Linked DNA regions of Homo sapiens. The protein of the gene in region 1 interacts with the protein of each later gene in a pairwise test. Each region holds a gene or a part of one and is shown in the gene's direction. Other genes may lie near its edges.

Region 1 (8,017 bases):
TAAGGACTCTAGGAGTGAGCACAAAAGCAGGGTGAGGCAAGGAAGGAAGAAAGCAAATTAAGAGCAGTGCCATTCATGAACTGGCCACAAGATTCCCAAGAAACCCAGCTGGTTACACAGGAACATATGAAACCACTCCTCAGAAACCTCCCTAGGAAGGAAGGGTGAGCAATACATCTGCCAGTGACTTCCTGCTTCCTCTCTCATTGGAATAAGTTTGTCTGCCCCACTAAGTGTTAATCCTCCTCCATTTCTCGGTTGTTGCCCAGCCTTTCAAGCAGCTGCTAGATAAGCCAGAGCCTCAGGTGGTAGACTTACAGGAACTGCAGCCTATGGCCCTTTGCCTGTTTTGTAAATAAAGTTTTATTGGCACACAGCCATACCCATGGACTTATGTATTGGCTGGTCTTCCTCTCTCTCTCTCTCTCTCTCTCTCTCTCTCTCTTTTTCTTTCTTTCTTTCTCCTGTTCTTGCTCTGTCGCCCAGGCTGGAGTGTAGTGAACTCCTGACCTCAGGTGATCTGCCCGCCTCAGCCTCCCAAAGTGCTAGGATTACAGGTGTGAGCCACTGAGCCCGGCTTTTTTTTTTTTTTTTTTTTTTTTTTTTTTGACTGGGGGAGGTGGGGGACAGGGTCTCCCTATGTTGCCCCAGGCTGGTCTTGAACTCCTGGGCTCAAACAATGCTCCCACCTTGGCCTCCCAAAGTACTGGGATTACAGACATAAGCCACTGCACCTGGCCATGTTTTGTCTATATCAATTTAAGTATCAGTAAAACCCACTTGGAAGGCTCATTCTGAATATTAAATGAGATAATGAATGTAATATTCAAAGCATAGTGCCTGCCTACACTCCATAAATTATTTTATTATTTAAATCTTATTTATTAGGCTGGGCGCAGTGACTCACGCCTGCAATCCCCGCACTTTGGGAGGCTGAGGCGGGCGGATCACCTGAGGTCAGGAGTTCGAGACCAGCCTGGACAACTTGGCAAAACGCCGTCTGTACTCTAAATACAAAAAATAGCCAGGTGTGGTGGCAGGCGCCTGTAATCCCAGCTACTTGGGAGCCTGAGGCAGGAGAATCACTTGAACCCGGGAGGCAGAGGTTGCAGTGAGCTGAGATCGCACCACTGCACTCCAGCCTGGATGATATAGTGAGACTCCATGTCAATAAATAAATAAACAAATCTTATTTATTATTTAAATTCAAATTATTGTGAATGGCAGTCTCCTTACTTAGGCTGTTTCTGCCATCCATCTGCCCCTAGCCACCTCCTCTACTGGATTCTAAGGGATATCTGAGTCTCACCATAAACCCCATTCTTTTGGTTGAGACATCTCGATGTCAGGGGACTCACCATGAAAAATAAACTGCCTGGGAGAGAAACTCAGGAACCGTCTTCCAGCAGTTGATCAAGTGCATCTGATCAAGTGGGAATGGTGGGTAAATGGTGGATTGTGGAATGAGAGAAAGCCAAGATGATGGAGCATTTCCAGGGAACAGATGCCCCAGGCAGCCCAAACTGTGAAAATGGAGAGCGAATTCAGGTGCTAAACTGGGAAGGAGGGAAAAACGGAGGAAGGGTTCATGCAAAAACAGATGTACCTTCATGTACTCAAAGACCGATTGTTTCTGCACACATACCTCAAAGTTCATATTCAGCACCGCCATCCCTGTATCTCCCATATCTACGAAACTTCCAGATGTTTCTGCCTCCCAAGTGTGTGCGTGTGTATTTGCTTCACTTTTCTCAGATTTGTAGTTGTACTGTTTCATGAAAAGTTTTGTCAGGCCAGGCATGATGGCTCATGCCTGTAATCCCAGCACTTTGAGAGGCCAAAGCGGGTGGATCACTTGAGGCCAGGAGTTCAAGACCAGCCTGGCCAACATGACGAAACCTATCTCTACTAAAAAGACAAAAAATTAGCTGAGTGTGATGGCATGTGCCTGTGGTCCCAGCTGCTCAGGAGGCTGAGGCATGAGAATCACTTGAACCCAGGAGGCAGAGATTGCAGTGAGCTGAGATCACGCCACTGCACTCCAGCCTGGGCAATGGAGCAAGACTCTGTCTCAAAGGAAAAAAAAAAAAAAAGTTTGTCATCTCAGTTCACCCAAGCTGGAGTTTGGTGGTGCAATCACAGCTCACTGCAACCTCAAACTCCTGGGCTCAAGTGATCCTCCCACCTCATCCTCCCCAGTAGCTGCAACTACAGGTGCGCAGCAGCACGCTCTGCTAATTTGAGATGTGTCGTCTTCCTCTAGGGACAGCAGGACTGGCCTTCCCTTGGGACCCCACAGAAGGCAGGCAGGAGGCTCCACTGCCAGACAGGAAGCAGAGCCTTATTTAACAACAATGAGCTGCAAACTCCACCACTTCAAAAGATGCTGCTCCTAGAGGAAGACGCTAGAGATGGGCTCTCACTATGTTGCCCAGGATGGTCTCAAACTCTTGGGCTCAAGTAATCCTCCTGCCTCAGCCTCCTTAAGTGCTGAGATTACAGGTGTGAGCCACTGGGCCCAGCCTCTCATACCAATTTCTAGTTCCCTCTCACTTTGATGACAGGGTTTTAAATTTAGTCTTACACTCATGCTTCTGCACCTTTACTCTGAGGCTCATCTTTACCATTGTCATCTGTGCCATGGCCCTAGGAATCTGCATTCATATCCATTTTCTCACTGATGAGATTCTGACTACTGAGCTTGAGTAGTGGGCACCAGAGTCAGCCAGAGCCCCCTGGAGAGTACTCCCAGGTTATCACGTAGGAAGCAGAGAGGCGGAGTGTGTTTTCTGGGGCATGAAACAGTGACTCAAATGCAGGGACCCCTTTGCCTGGCCCACTGGCCCTCAACCTTCAGGCAAATGTACAGACACTCTTCATTTTTATCTTTTAAAGCACTTTCCATTACACTAACCTCCAGAAGCAACTCTGCTTACCAAGGCAGAAGGAAAGAGAGCCACTGTCCAAATTAGATATTAGAATTCAAGCTTTTAAACATTAATGCTTGGGGAGTAGTTCTATGGTGCTTCTGACTGTTTTTACAATGGAGTGTGTAATCCAGCAGAGCTGTTAAGCTTTCTGAAGATGTCAGTCTGTTCTGACTTCTAGGAAGGCAGCTGTGGAGTGAACAGGCTGCGTTTATAGACGTGCCAGATCTGGACTCTTTTGAAGTGGTGGAGTTTGCACCTCATTGTTGTTAAATAAGGCTCCGCTTCCTGTCTGGCAGTGGAGCCTCCCGCCTGCCTTCTGTGGGGTCCCAAGGGAAGGCCAGTCCTGCTATCCCTAGAGGAAGACGGCACAGATCATGCCTTCCTTAAAACCGCAAAGCTGGTGGGGAGAACAAGTGAGGAAAGTCCATGAACACAATGGGGACACCTGCACCTTGGTTGCTTGAAAAAAACCCAGAGAGGGGCCCATTTTACCAGGAGAGAGGAGGAAGGGTGTCTCTTGTGTGGTCACAAAGAGCCAATGAGGTTTGTTGAAGATGATAAATATGATGGAGCTGGATTTTTTTTTCTTTTCTTTTTTTAAAATAAAGGCCATAATCTAGAAGGAGCACTTCTATTTTCAGCCTTGAAGAACTTAAAAAAAAAAATCTTAGTATGCTTACTGTAATCATTAACACAATATTACTTGGAAACTTACATGTATAGAATAAAGCAAGATTTTCAATGTATGAGAAAACATAGAAAAATTAACGCAGTTAAGAAAAATCCAAATAAATAGAACTGAAAGTTAAGGTGCAAAATGTGTCTGTGTGTACTTATGCTGAGTACTTTTCCCTTTATTTTTTTAATGTTTTTAAATTTTAAACTTAATTCTGTGTGTGTGTGTGTGTGTGTGTGTGTGTGTGTGTGTGTGTGTGAGAGAGAGAGATAGGGTCTCACTCCATTGCTCAGGCTGGAGTGCAGTGGTGTAATCTCTGCTCACTGCAACCTCCACTTGCCGGGCTCAAGTGATCCTCCCACCTCAGCCTCCCCAGAAGCTAGGGCTACAAGCACGCCCCACCACATCCAGCTAATTTTTGTTTTGTTTCGTTTTTTGATACAAGGTCTGGCTCTATCGCTCAGGCTGGAGTGCAGTGGCACTATCTTGGCTCACTGCAAACTCCACCTCCTGGGCTCAAGCGATCCTCCCACCTCAGCCTGCCGAGTAGCTTGGATCACAGGCCTGGGCCACCACACCGGGCTAATGTTTGTATTTTTAATAGAGGTGGGGTTTCGCCATGTTGCCCACGCTGGTCTCCAACTCTTGAGCTCAAGCGATCTGCCTGCCTCGGCCTCCCAAGGTGCTGGGATTACAGGTGTGAGCTACTGCTCTTTCTTTAACATTGATCTGTTTGTTTCATTCATTAATTGTAAACGAAAATCCTGCCTCTGTGGGATTATATCCATGAATGAGAGAGGCCATAAAAAAAAGCACTAATTGGACAACCATCTCTACTTAGGAAAAAAGCAGTTACAGGGATCAGTCACAGTTTATGAACATGTTCTGGCGCCTTAAAGGCATCAAAATCAGGATGTCAGAGTCCCAAATAGGAAAGATCTAGTCCACGAGGCCTGTTTCTCTAGAAGACCAGTAAAGATGGCAGGTTTGGCGCTCTAGGTGGCAGAGAAACCACCAGGAAGGCTTGGTGAATGGGGAGAAAGGTAACCTTCCCAACCTTTCTGCTTCTCCTTCCACTTCCCTCCTCCTCCTCCCTCTTCCTCTCCTCTCAGCCCTCCCTCTCTCTGTCCTCCTCCTCCGCCCGCCCAAGCATCACCTCGTGAGGCCTCGTGGCGTTAGCCCAGTGCTCTCGGCCCCCACCGAGCCTGGCTCTACTGCAGGCGCTGGGGGTTGGGGTGGGGGAGAGGCCCAGGGCACATGATGCCGCCCCCAGCCCGCCCAGCACATGACCCAGGCAGGCCGGCGGGGTCCTGGCACACCCGAGCCGCGTCCGCGAACACAGCCCATGGCCTCCCCGCGCCTAGGGACCTTCTGCTGCCCCACGCGGGACGCAGCCACGCAGCTCGTGCTGAGCTTCCAGCCGCGGGCCTTCCACGCGCTCTGCCTGGGCAGCGGCGGGCTCCGCTTGGCGCTGGGCCTTCTGCAGCTGCTGCCCGGCCGCCGGCCCGCGGGCCCCGGGTCCCCCGCGACGTCCCCGCCGGCCTCGGTCCGCATCCTGCGCGCTGCCGCTGCCTGCGACCTTCTCGGCTGCCTGGGTAAGGGCGCGCGCGGCCCGCGGGTTGGAATCTGATCAGCGCCTGGGTGAGGGCGCGTGGCCCGCAGGTTGAGACCCGACTGGTGCCCGGATAAGGGCGCACGGCCTGTGGATTTGGACCTGTTCCGTGATGGAGTGAGGACGAGAGGCCCGCGGGTTGGAACCTGCCCGGTGCAGGGCTGAGGGCGCGTAGCTGGCTGGTTGGGACCTGCTCGGTCCCCGGCTGAGGGCTTGAGGCCCGCGGGTTGGGACCTGCTCAGTGCTGGGGTGAGGGCGTGAGGCCCTGGGGTTGGGACCTGCTCAATCCCCGGGTGAGAGTGCGTGGCCCGCAGGTTGAGACCGGATCGATGCCCGGGTGAGGGCGCATGGCCCGCAGGTTGGAACTCGATCCACTCGGGTTGGAACTTGATCGGTGCCCGGGTGATGGCGCACGGCTAGCGGGTTGGGCTGGCCGTCTTAACACTTGAACCACAGAGAAAAGAGAAAGCGGAGGCTGTTCCCTAGGGACCGGATGGGACAACTAGGTAATTTTTTTTTTTTTTTTTGAGACGGAGTCTTGCTCTGTCGCCCAGACTGAAGTGCAGTGGCGCAATCTCGGCTCACTGCAACCTCCACCTCCCGGGTTCAAGGGATTCTCTTGCCTCAGCCTCCCGAGTAGCTGGGGGAGGCGCGCGCCACCATGCCCGACTAATTTTTGTATTTTTAGTAGAGACGGAGTTTCACCATGTTGGCCAGGCTGCTCTCGAACTCCTGACCTCAGGTAATCCACCCGCCTCGGCCTCCCAAAGTGCTGGGATTACAGGCGTAAGCCACCGCGCCCGGCCGACTAGGTAGTTTTGCAAACACATGGTCGGTAAAATTCCCATCCAAGGGACGTTGGGTTTTAAAAAATCCGTTTATTGTGTTTGTTATATGGAAACTTCAGATGGCGCAGTTAAGCAAAACCCAGACCAGAAAAGATTTCCTCATTTTTGCCCAACTGCACCAGGGAGAGACTAACAATTAACTTCTCTCTGTCTCGCTCTGTGTGTGTGTGTGTGTGTGTGTGTGTGTGTGTGTGTGTGCGCGTGTGTAAATTCTTTTCTATTGTGCACTATATATTCTCTCGAGTATTTTGTAAGCTGAAATCCCTTCCCTATCCAGGCTTTTTGGGTATGGTTTTTACACCACAGGTGCGCAAACTGCAGCCCTCAGACCAAATCCTGCCCGTTTTCTAGGGTCCACGAGCTAAGAATGGTTTTACATCCTACTTTTTAAAAAATTAATGATTTTGTTTTTTGAGACAGGGTCTCACCCTCTTGCCCAGGTTGAGTGCAGTGTCACAATCACAGCTCACTGCAGCCTCGACCTCCTGGGTTCAAGCGATCCTCCCACCTCAGCTACCCGAGTAGCTGGGACTACAGCCACACGCCACCATGCTAGGGTAAATATATGTGGGGTCTCACTATGTTGCCCAGGCTGGTCTCCAACTCCTGGGCTTAATTAAAAGATCACCACCCTTGGCATCGTAAAGTGTTAGGATTACAGGCGTGAGCCACCTCACCCAGCCCTAAAATGTTTTTAAAAATCAAAATTAAAAAATATTTCCTGGCATGTGACTATTACTGAAATTTAAATGTTAATGTCTACAAATAAAGTTTGATGGGAACGCAGCTATGTTGTTCATGTGCATTTGTGAATTATTCATGGCTGCCTTTACCCTACAAGGGCAGGGTGAATATTGGACTGAGAAAGTATGGCTCCCAAAGCCAAAAATATTAAGAATGAGTTTGCCAACATCTGCTTTAAACTATTATGTGACACTTTATACAGACCTCTCAGCTAGATTTGGCCATTCTGTTTAGCTTTTTGGAACATTTCCACCATGCGTAAATGCAGTCTATAATAGAAACACTTACAGTGAATCCCTGTACGTGGGATTCGTGAGGTACGGGTACCCGGCTCATCTGCTCCCCTCTTCACCCTCCTCACTGGATTAATGTGAAGCCAATCTCAGGCTCCATCATCCTGCCCATTCAGATCTCAGAGAGAGCCCTAAAACATAATAATTCTAAACATTTGCAACCCCAATATCATTATCACTTTATTTTTGAGACAGGGTCTCACTCTGTTGCCCAGGTTGGAGTGTGCTGGCATGATCATAGCTCACTGCAGCCTCGAACTTCTAGGCTCAAGGGATCCTCCTACCTCAGCCTCCTGAGCAGCTGGAACTACAGGCATGCATCACCACACTGGCTAATTTTTGCATTATTTTTTCAGAGCTGGAGTCTCACCATCTTGCCCAGGCTGGTCAAACTTCTAGGCTCAAGCGATCCTCCTACTTCGGCCTCCTAAAGGTGCGGTGGCTCACGCCTGTAATCCTAACTACTCAGGAGGCTGTGGTGGACGGATTGCTTGAACCCAGGAGTTCAAGACTAGCCTGGGCAACGTAACGAGACCCAGGCTCTACCCCCAAGAAAAAAAAAACAACAAAAAAAAGGCCCGTCATGGTGGGATGCACATGTGGTCCCAGCTACTCACCAGGCTGAGGCAGGAGGACCATTTGAGCCCAGGAATTCCAGGCTAGAGTGAGCTACGATCCAGCCTGGGTGACAGCCAAGACCCTGTCTCTAAAAAAGTAAGGTGTACCCAAACATCTTTTGAGGGTTAGTGAATAATACTTGCATATCCTTTAGCCTTTAGAAGGGAAGTGGATGAGGTTGCGAGCAAATAAGCAGAAGTCAGGAAAAGGCTGGGTGATCGGGACCCCTTACTGAAAAATAAGAAATTTCAATGCCCATGGGATAGGGCTTTTATTAAGCTCAAAGGAGTGATAAA
Region 2 (7,277 bases), on another chromosome or scaffold:
CTCCTCTCATAGAATAATTGATTTACTGTTATTGAATTTCAAACCAAAGTTTTCAAATGTCTTTGTGTCAGGCACCATACCATTACACAATAATACATAGTGAATAGGATACAGTTTATATTTTGATAGAGTTTATCACCTAACAGGTATGTTTATAAAGATTAAATATATACACCATATTGCCTTATTCATTGATTTAAAAATTCATTTACAAAAATATTAGCACTTTAAGTATTGAGTATTTTATGTAACTTATCTTCTAGTGGAGTAGGTCTAGTAAGTGTGTGTGGTGAGACAGTAAAACATTATATATAATATTTTATTTAAAAAAGTTAAAGGAGTTAAAAAATATAATAAGTTATATATATTGTTTTACTGTCTCACCCACTCACACTTCCTAGACCTACTCCACTAGAAGGTAAGTTACATAAAGTACTCAATACTTAAAATGCTAATACTTATTAAAAATGTTTAAGTCAATGAATAAGGCAATATGGTATAGACATTAAATCTTCATGACCATACTTATTAGACTGTAAACTCTATAAAAATAAAAACTATGTTTATCGTGTTCAGTATGTATTCTTGTATTCTGGTATAATGCCTGACACATAGACATTTTAAAACTTCGGTTTGAAAAGCAGCAACAATAAATCAATCATTCTATGAGAGTTCTTTTGATTACATAGTTTGTTAGAAGGTGCTAAGTGCACAGATAAAGCAGAAATTAGTGGTGTACAGTAAATGTTTAATAACTTGTTCTCAATGGAGGAGTGGGAAAGTAGGGAGAGATGATTCTGATTTGCCAATTGTTGTGGTGTAAATACTGACAATGGTAGATTTCCATCTAATGATGGGATACTGCTGAACATTCTAATATTGAGAAGGGTTACACACTTTGAACTTTTGCTAGCTAGTGCTAACCAGCTCTACAACACTGCTAAAGTGGGTAAGGCTGAATATGATGTTAAATAGATGTTTAGTGTAGATTTCATTAAGATAATGAAGATATGAATAACCCAAGCAGGTATCAAGGGAAAACAGTCTACCCAGAAAAAATAACCAGTACAGGAACATGTTGCATAAGAGTGATTGGTGAGTTTTGGGAAGGGCAAAGAGGCCAGTGAAGTTATAGAAGAGAGGGAAAGGGAAAGATCAGTAGGAAATAATGTTTGCATCAGTCAGGATCTCAGTAGGAAATAGATACCCAAACCAAGTTATATTAAGACAGTTTATTTAGAAAAATTTGATCAAGGTTTAGGGAAACCAACAAAGAACAACATCCTGTTGTCAGCCACAACTGAGATACAGGACTAGAACTCTCTATTTTATTTTAACCTAGAACCTACTTTTAAAAATTTTTTAATGTTGAGTTCTGCTAGACTAGTTATAAAAGCACAAAATACACTAAAGATGAAGTTGGAAAACTTGGGTTGCCATCACAACACTGCCATTTATTTGCCATATAACCTGAGAAATGCCACTTACCCTCTCTGAGTCTCATTTTCCTTATTTGTGAAGCGAAATGTATTGTTTTGTGATGTAAATGAAACAATGCATGTGCCGTGTTTTCTTAAAAAGTTTTGCTTATAGAAAGGTGAGAAATTCTTATTTTTAAGACGGTATTTCTACAATGAAAATCACCTTGGTTCTAGCTAAAGGATCAGAGAAATTTCTTTTCTTAAAAAACAATCAACCACGAGTATTGTACTGCACATCAAAAAAAAAAGGGACAATAATAGGATATTTTATGAACAAAAAGCACAAAATGAAACTATTTCTAGTCCTTGACATTCTGAATATAATATAGATTAATGTTTTTAAAGCTACTGTTTATTGAGTGTTTTCTGTTGGTCATGCCATGTGCTATGGGCTTTATATACAGTAAGATGCCTATCTCTATTGTTACCAACCCCAGCCTCAGCACTTGGCACAGTGCTTAATATATAATAGGTGTTTAATAAATATTTTATTTTCTATAACTATGTGAGGTAGTTGTTATTATCTTCATTTGATAGATGAGGCCTAGACAGTTAAATCATTTTCTTAAGTGGTAGATGCAACACTAGAATCCTGTTCCAGGTTTTAACTTTTATGGCTCATTCTGTAACCTTCAAAAAGCTAATTCTAAAATACAGTAGTATGCCACACAATGGCATTTCTGTCAAGGATGGACCACATATATGACAGAGGTCCCACACTACTATAATGGAGCTGAAAAATTCCTGTCACCCAGTGACATCATAGCAGTCATAATATTATACACAATGCATTACTCATGTCTTCGTGGTGATGCTGGTGTAAACCTACTGAAATCCCACTTGTATAAAAGTCTAGCACATAGCATTATGTACACTACATAATACTTGATAATGATAATAAACAACTATGTTACTGGTTTATGTATTTACTATCTATATTTTATCATTATTTTCGAATGTACTTCTTCCACTTATAAAAAAGTAAGTTAACTGTAAAACAGCCTCAGGCAGGCTCTCCAGGAGGTGTTCCACAAAACGCCTGGATGTTTTATAGAGATTGTTATAGAGATGATAGCTCCATGTGTACTATTGCCCCTGAAGATTTTCCAGTGGGACAAGATGTGGAGGTGGAAGACAATGATATTGACAACTTTGACTCTGTGTAGGCCTATGCTAGTGTGTATGCTTGTGTCTCAGTTTTTAACGAAATTTCAATTATGTTTATAATAAGTAAAAAATTAAATAGCATAAAGCTTATAGGCTAAGGATATAATAAATATTTCCTACAGTTGTACAATATGTGTTTTAAGCTAAGTGCTATTATCAAAAGACTCAAAAAGTTTTAAAAAATTAAGTAAAAAAGTTACAGGAAGCTAAGGTGAATTTATCATTAAAAAAGAAAAATATTTTTATAAATTTAATGTAGCCGATATATATATAGTGTTTATAAAATCTACTGTAGTGTAGAGTAGTATCTTAGGCCTTTATATTCACTCCTTATTCCCTCACTTACTTACCCAATGCAACTTCTAGTCCTGCAAGGTCCATTTATGGTAAGTGTCCTGTATATACAAGTATGCCATTTAAAAAAAAATTTTATACTGTATTTTTACTGTACCTTTTACATGTTTAGATAGGTTTAGATGTATAGATACTTGCCATTATCTTACAATTGCCTATAGTATTCAGTACAGTAATGTGCTGGACAGATTTGTAGCCTAGGAGCAGTAGGTTTTACCAAACAGCCAAGATGTTTAGTAGGCTATACCATTCTAGGTTTGTGCAAGTACACTGACTATGATGTTCACGCAATGACAAAATCACCTAATGATGGATTTCTCAGAACATATCCCTGTCATTAAAGACACATGATTGTAGTAATCTCCTCAGGAGAAGTCTAACAACGATAATTAGGAGTTCCAACATTTCTGCCTTCTCCTACTGACTCAGTGGTGGTGACAATTTGTTTAACATGAGGGTGTTTTGTACAGATTGTCTGTAGCCGATTGGAGGAGTACAACAGCCATCAGTCTTTATGCAATGGAACGCCCGAGGGACCTTTACGGCGTAATCCTGGAAACCATGACAAATCCAGAACCCCAAGGCTCCCCTCTTCAGCTGATGTAGAATTTTGCCTGAGTTTGACCCAATATGAATCTGGTTCCATGGATAAAGCTGCCAATTTCAGCTTTAGAAATACACTGGAAGGTAATCTCTTTCTTTTCACTTTTAATTTTTTTTCTGAATTCATATTTACAGTCTCTTATCCAAAGTCCTAGGAGGTATTTGAGAATTCAGAATTTTCTGAGTTGACCAAGAATATGTGTTGTATATACTTATATCGACAATGACCCTAGCTGACACTGGTCAGCACGTTATAATTCAACGTGTTAGCTTCAGGAGCCAGGCATGGTGGCTCATGCCTGTAATCCCAGTTTACTTGGGAGGCTGTGACAGGTGGATCACTTGAACTCAGAAGTTTCAGGCTGCAGTGAGCTATGATTGTGTCACTGCATTCCAGCCTCGGTAACAAAGTGAGAGACTCTGAGGAAAGAAGCAGCAGCAGAAGCAGAAGAAGCAGCAGTAGCAGCTTTAGTGAAATATATGAATATATTCATCATGGTAATAAATACAGGCAATAGGCAACCTAATGGTGAGTAAAGTCAGTTTTTTCCATTAAAAGAGAAAAATTAATTTCATTTCCAGAACATTTTGTATTGTGGAATTTCAGATATAAGTCTGTGGACTGATACTATTTTCCTACGTTTTAGTGTTTTAGTTTTCTCCTGTTTAAAATATTCTAGGCAGTGGGTTCTTTGAGGTAAGTTCATTCATTTAACTGTAATAAGGACACAGCACATAGGTAAAGCCTCCCTCTCATTATCCCTTAAGTTTTCTGTTCTTCATCAGAGATTACATCTCATGATCTTCTCTAACTCCTAAATATTTATCCTACAAATGTTTTCATCTTGCTTGCATTTTGCATTCAAACATCGATTCATTCTTTTCTGCTTATAGCTGACTCAGTCATGAAACCCATTTCACTCACATAAATTTGCATTAGGAAAACAAAATCACAAACAAACACAACAAAACAAAAACAAACAAAAAAAAACTCAATCAAGTCACAAATTTACCAGGAGTTTGGGGAAGACATAGGCACTGACTTGTGGCAAGGCAGACAACTCAAAATTTAACACTAGACATCGCAGCTCCTAAAAGGCCTGTGACACCTTAACATGTAGAAAAACTTTCCTCTCTTTTGTAATCCTTTCTCCTTGACTTGTTCTTTTTTTTTCCTTTTTGTCATTGTTTTACACCCCAACTTTTATTATTGTACTGTGCAGAGTGGTTTTACTGTTTCATTCATTTCCCTGTTTTATTCAAAACCATAATCTCAGGGTCTTACATCCAGAATCAATTGAAGCAAGGCAAGTCTCATCCTAAAGATGAATTCTGTTTTCCAGCTATGAAAATAGAAATTAGGTTTATTCTTCTATGGTAATATTCATGATTAACTTTTTAAAGTAATCACCGTATCCAAAACACCATGTCAAACACTTTGTATGGCATTAATTCACTCAATTCTAATAACTATCCCCTGAGGAAGATTGTATTTATTATTCCCACTTTTAAGGGAGGAAACATTATCAGAGATATTCATCTTTTGGTTATTGATTCCCATTGAAAAGTGGTGGAGATAATCTGCCCCCAGCTTTATCAAGTACCAAAGTCCAAGTTCTTTCCATTGCACTCTGATAATCAACAGTGGGTTGAGAGTTTCTTTAAAGTGGACAATACCAGTTTGGTCTTTTGACATAAGAAGGCAAGACATAATGCCAGGTAATCTCAGAGCCTATATAACAAATCTAAGGTACACAATTTCAAAGTCACCATCTGGGAGGATTGGGTGACCCACTGGACTCTTCAGGGATTAACAACAGTACTCAGAATGCTGATATTAATGACATTGCAAAGCGAAGCTACATCTTTAAGGAAACTGGAGCATTTTGCTGTTTTTTCAGCCATAAGTGACAAAGCATATATTTTATTATTAAGAAGCATGGGTTAGTTGCAGAAATAAGGCAGGGGAACATCACTCGTCTAGGGTCTCAAGTCAAAGAAAAAAAGTGGCTCAAGATGTGTCAACTCAGCCAGTGGTTTTCAAGTGAGAGTCTAATACACACAGGTGAGGAGGGAACAGCAGATTTACTACAAATAATTTGCTACTACAAATAATTTATGTTTGTAAATTATTTTTTCCCATAATTTATTCTCATTCTTACACACTTTAGTAGGCAAAGTGTGTGAGAAGCAAACAGATGCAACATAGCATATTGTCTGGCACACAGTCGTTCGGTAAGTATCTGATAACCGAGTATGTAAATAATAGCTAGAATCTTTCAAATTGCATCTAAACCACCACTTACCTTATCCATGCCTGTTGTATGAAGTCCATGTCATGAGAGAAAATGTGAGAAACCATTAAGCTCAGCTGCTAAGAAGAACTTTTCTTTACCAGGTACACATTTTAAAATTATTTTTTCTTAAATTTGTATTCAGCAATAATTTTAAGCTTACAGAGATGTTGTGAAAATAAAAGCAATACAAAAAACATGAATATATATTTTACCCAAACTTACTTACATTGTATCCTGTTTCTCTCTCTCTCTCTCCCAGTCTGAGCCATTTTAAGGGTAAATTGCATAGACTGTAACTCTTTACCCCTGAATATTTTAGTGTGTATTTCCTAAGAATAGGAATAGACTCATATAGCCACAGAACAGTTTTCAACTTCAGTAAACTCTATATTGATATAATGCTTTTATCAAATCTACTGTATATCAGTTTTTAAAATTAGATATAATAATATCCTCAGTATTTTTCCTCTCCAAAATAGAATCTAGTCTAGGATCAAATAGCATTTAGTTTTCATGGTTCTTTAGTCTGAAATATTTCCATAACCTTGTACATATGTGTCTTTATGTGCTTGACAGCTCTGGAGGATATAGTTCCTCCTCTTCCTCCTCATTTTTTTAATAGAACATTCTTCATTTTGAGTGTATCTAATATTTCTTCATGACTAGATCCAGGTAATGCACTATTAGCCAAAATTCCACATAGGTGATTATGCATCTTTCTGAGATGGTGTCACATCTGGAGGCACATCATGACCATCTGTCTCACGTTGGTGATGTTAATCACCTACTCCAGATGTGGTCCAATTTTCCCACTGTATAATTATTTCTTCCCCTTGTTTAATAAACTGTCTACATGGAGACATTTTAAGACTATGCAAATACCTCACCTCTTATCACAATTTCTTCTACAGTTGGCATCGTCGATGGTTACAAATTTATGATTTTTCAACTTCAGCACTGCTTTTAAATTTATTAGCCAATATTCAGGATTCTACTATTAGCAAAAATCCTCCATTTTTTCTATCTATCTATCTATCTATCTATCTATCTATCATCTATCTATATTAATGGTATGGAGTAAAGGCTTTCCATTGTTTGATAGTGTATAACTCATTGATGTGCTTAATTATCTTTGTGTTCCAATGGTTCCAGAATTTGCCCATGGTACACCTTCAAGCTGGTTCTTATGTCTCCATTTCATATACACATTTTTTAAAACACACATTCTCTCTGGTAAGCAAATTATTCTAGAGCATCTTGTACCTACAATGCTCCAGGCCTGAAATTAGCCATGACTCCAAGGAGTAATGTTTTCTTTCATTGGGAAGGAAACTCAAGATCAAGATTCGGAAGCAAGTTTTCCTCACCAGAGAGA

The links.
Region 2: the proteins of GPR143 (region 1) and TYR interact in binary tests that used the Homo sapiens proteins (3 or more experiments, as listed by UniProt).

What each region holds. Positions count from the first base shown.
Region 1 is NC_000023.11:9,762,752-9,770,768, reverse strand, and holds the start of GPR143 (G-protein coupled receptor 143), read left to right. Parts: upstream 1-4,921; 5' UTR 4,922-4,951; coding exon 4,952-5,201; intron 5,202-8,017. UniProt on the Homo sapiens protein: Receptor for tyrosine, L-DOPA and dopamine.
Region 2 is NC_000011.10:89,187,730-89,195,006, forward strand, and holds part of TYR (tyrosinase precursor), read left to right. Parts: intron 1-3,472; coding exon 3,473-3,689; intron 3,690-7,277. UniProt on the Homo sapiens protein: This is a copper-containing oxidase that functions in the formation of pigments such as melanins and other polyphenolic compounds. Catalyzes the initial and rate limiting step in the cascade of reactions leading to melanin production from tyrosine.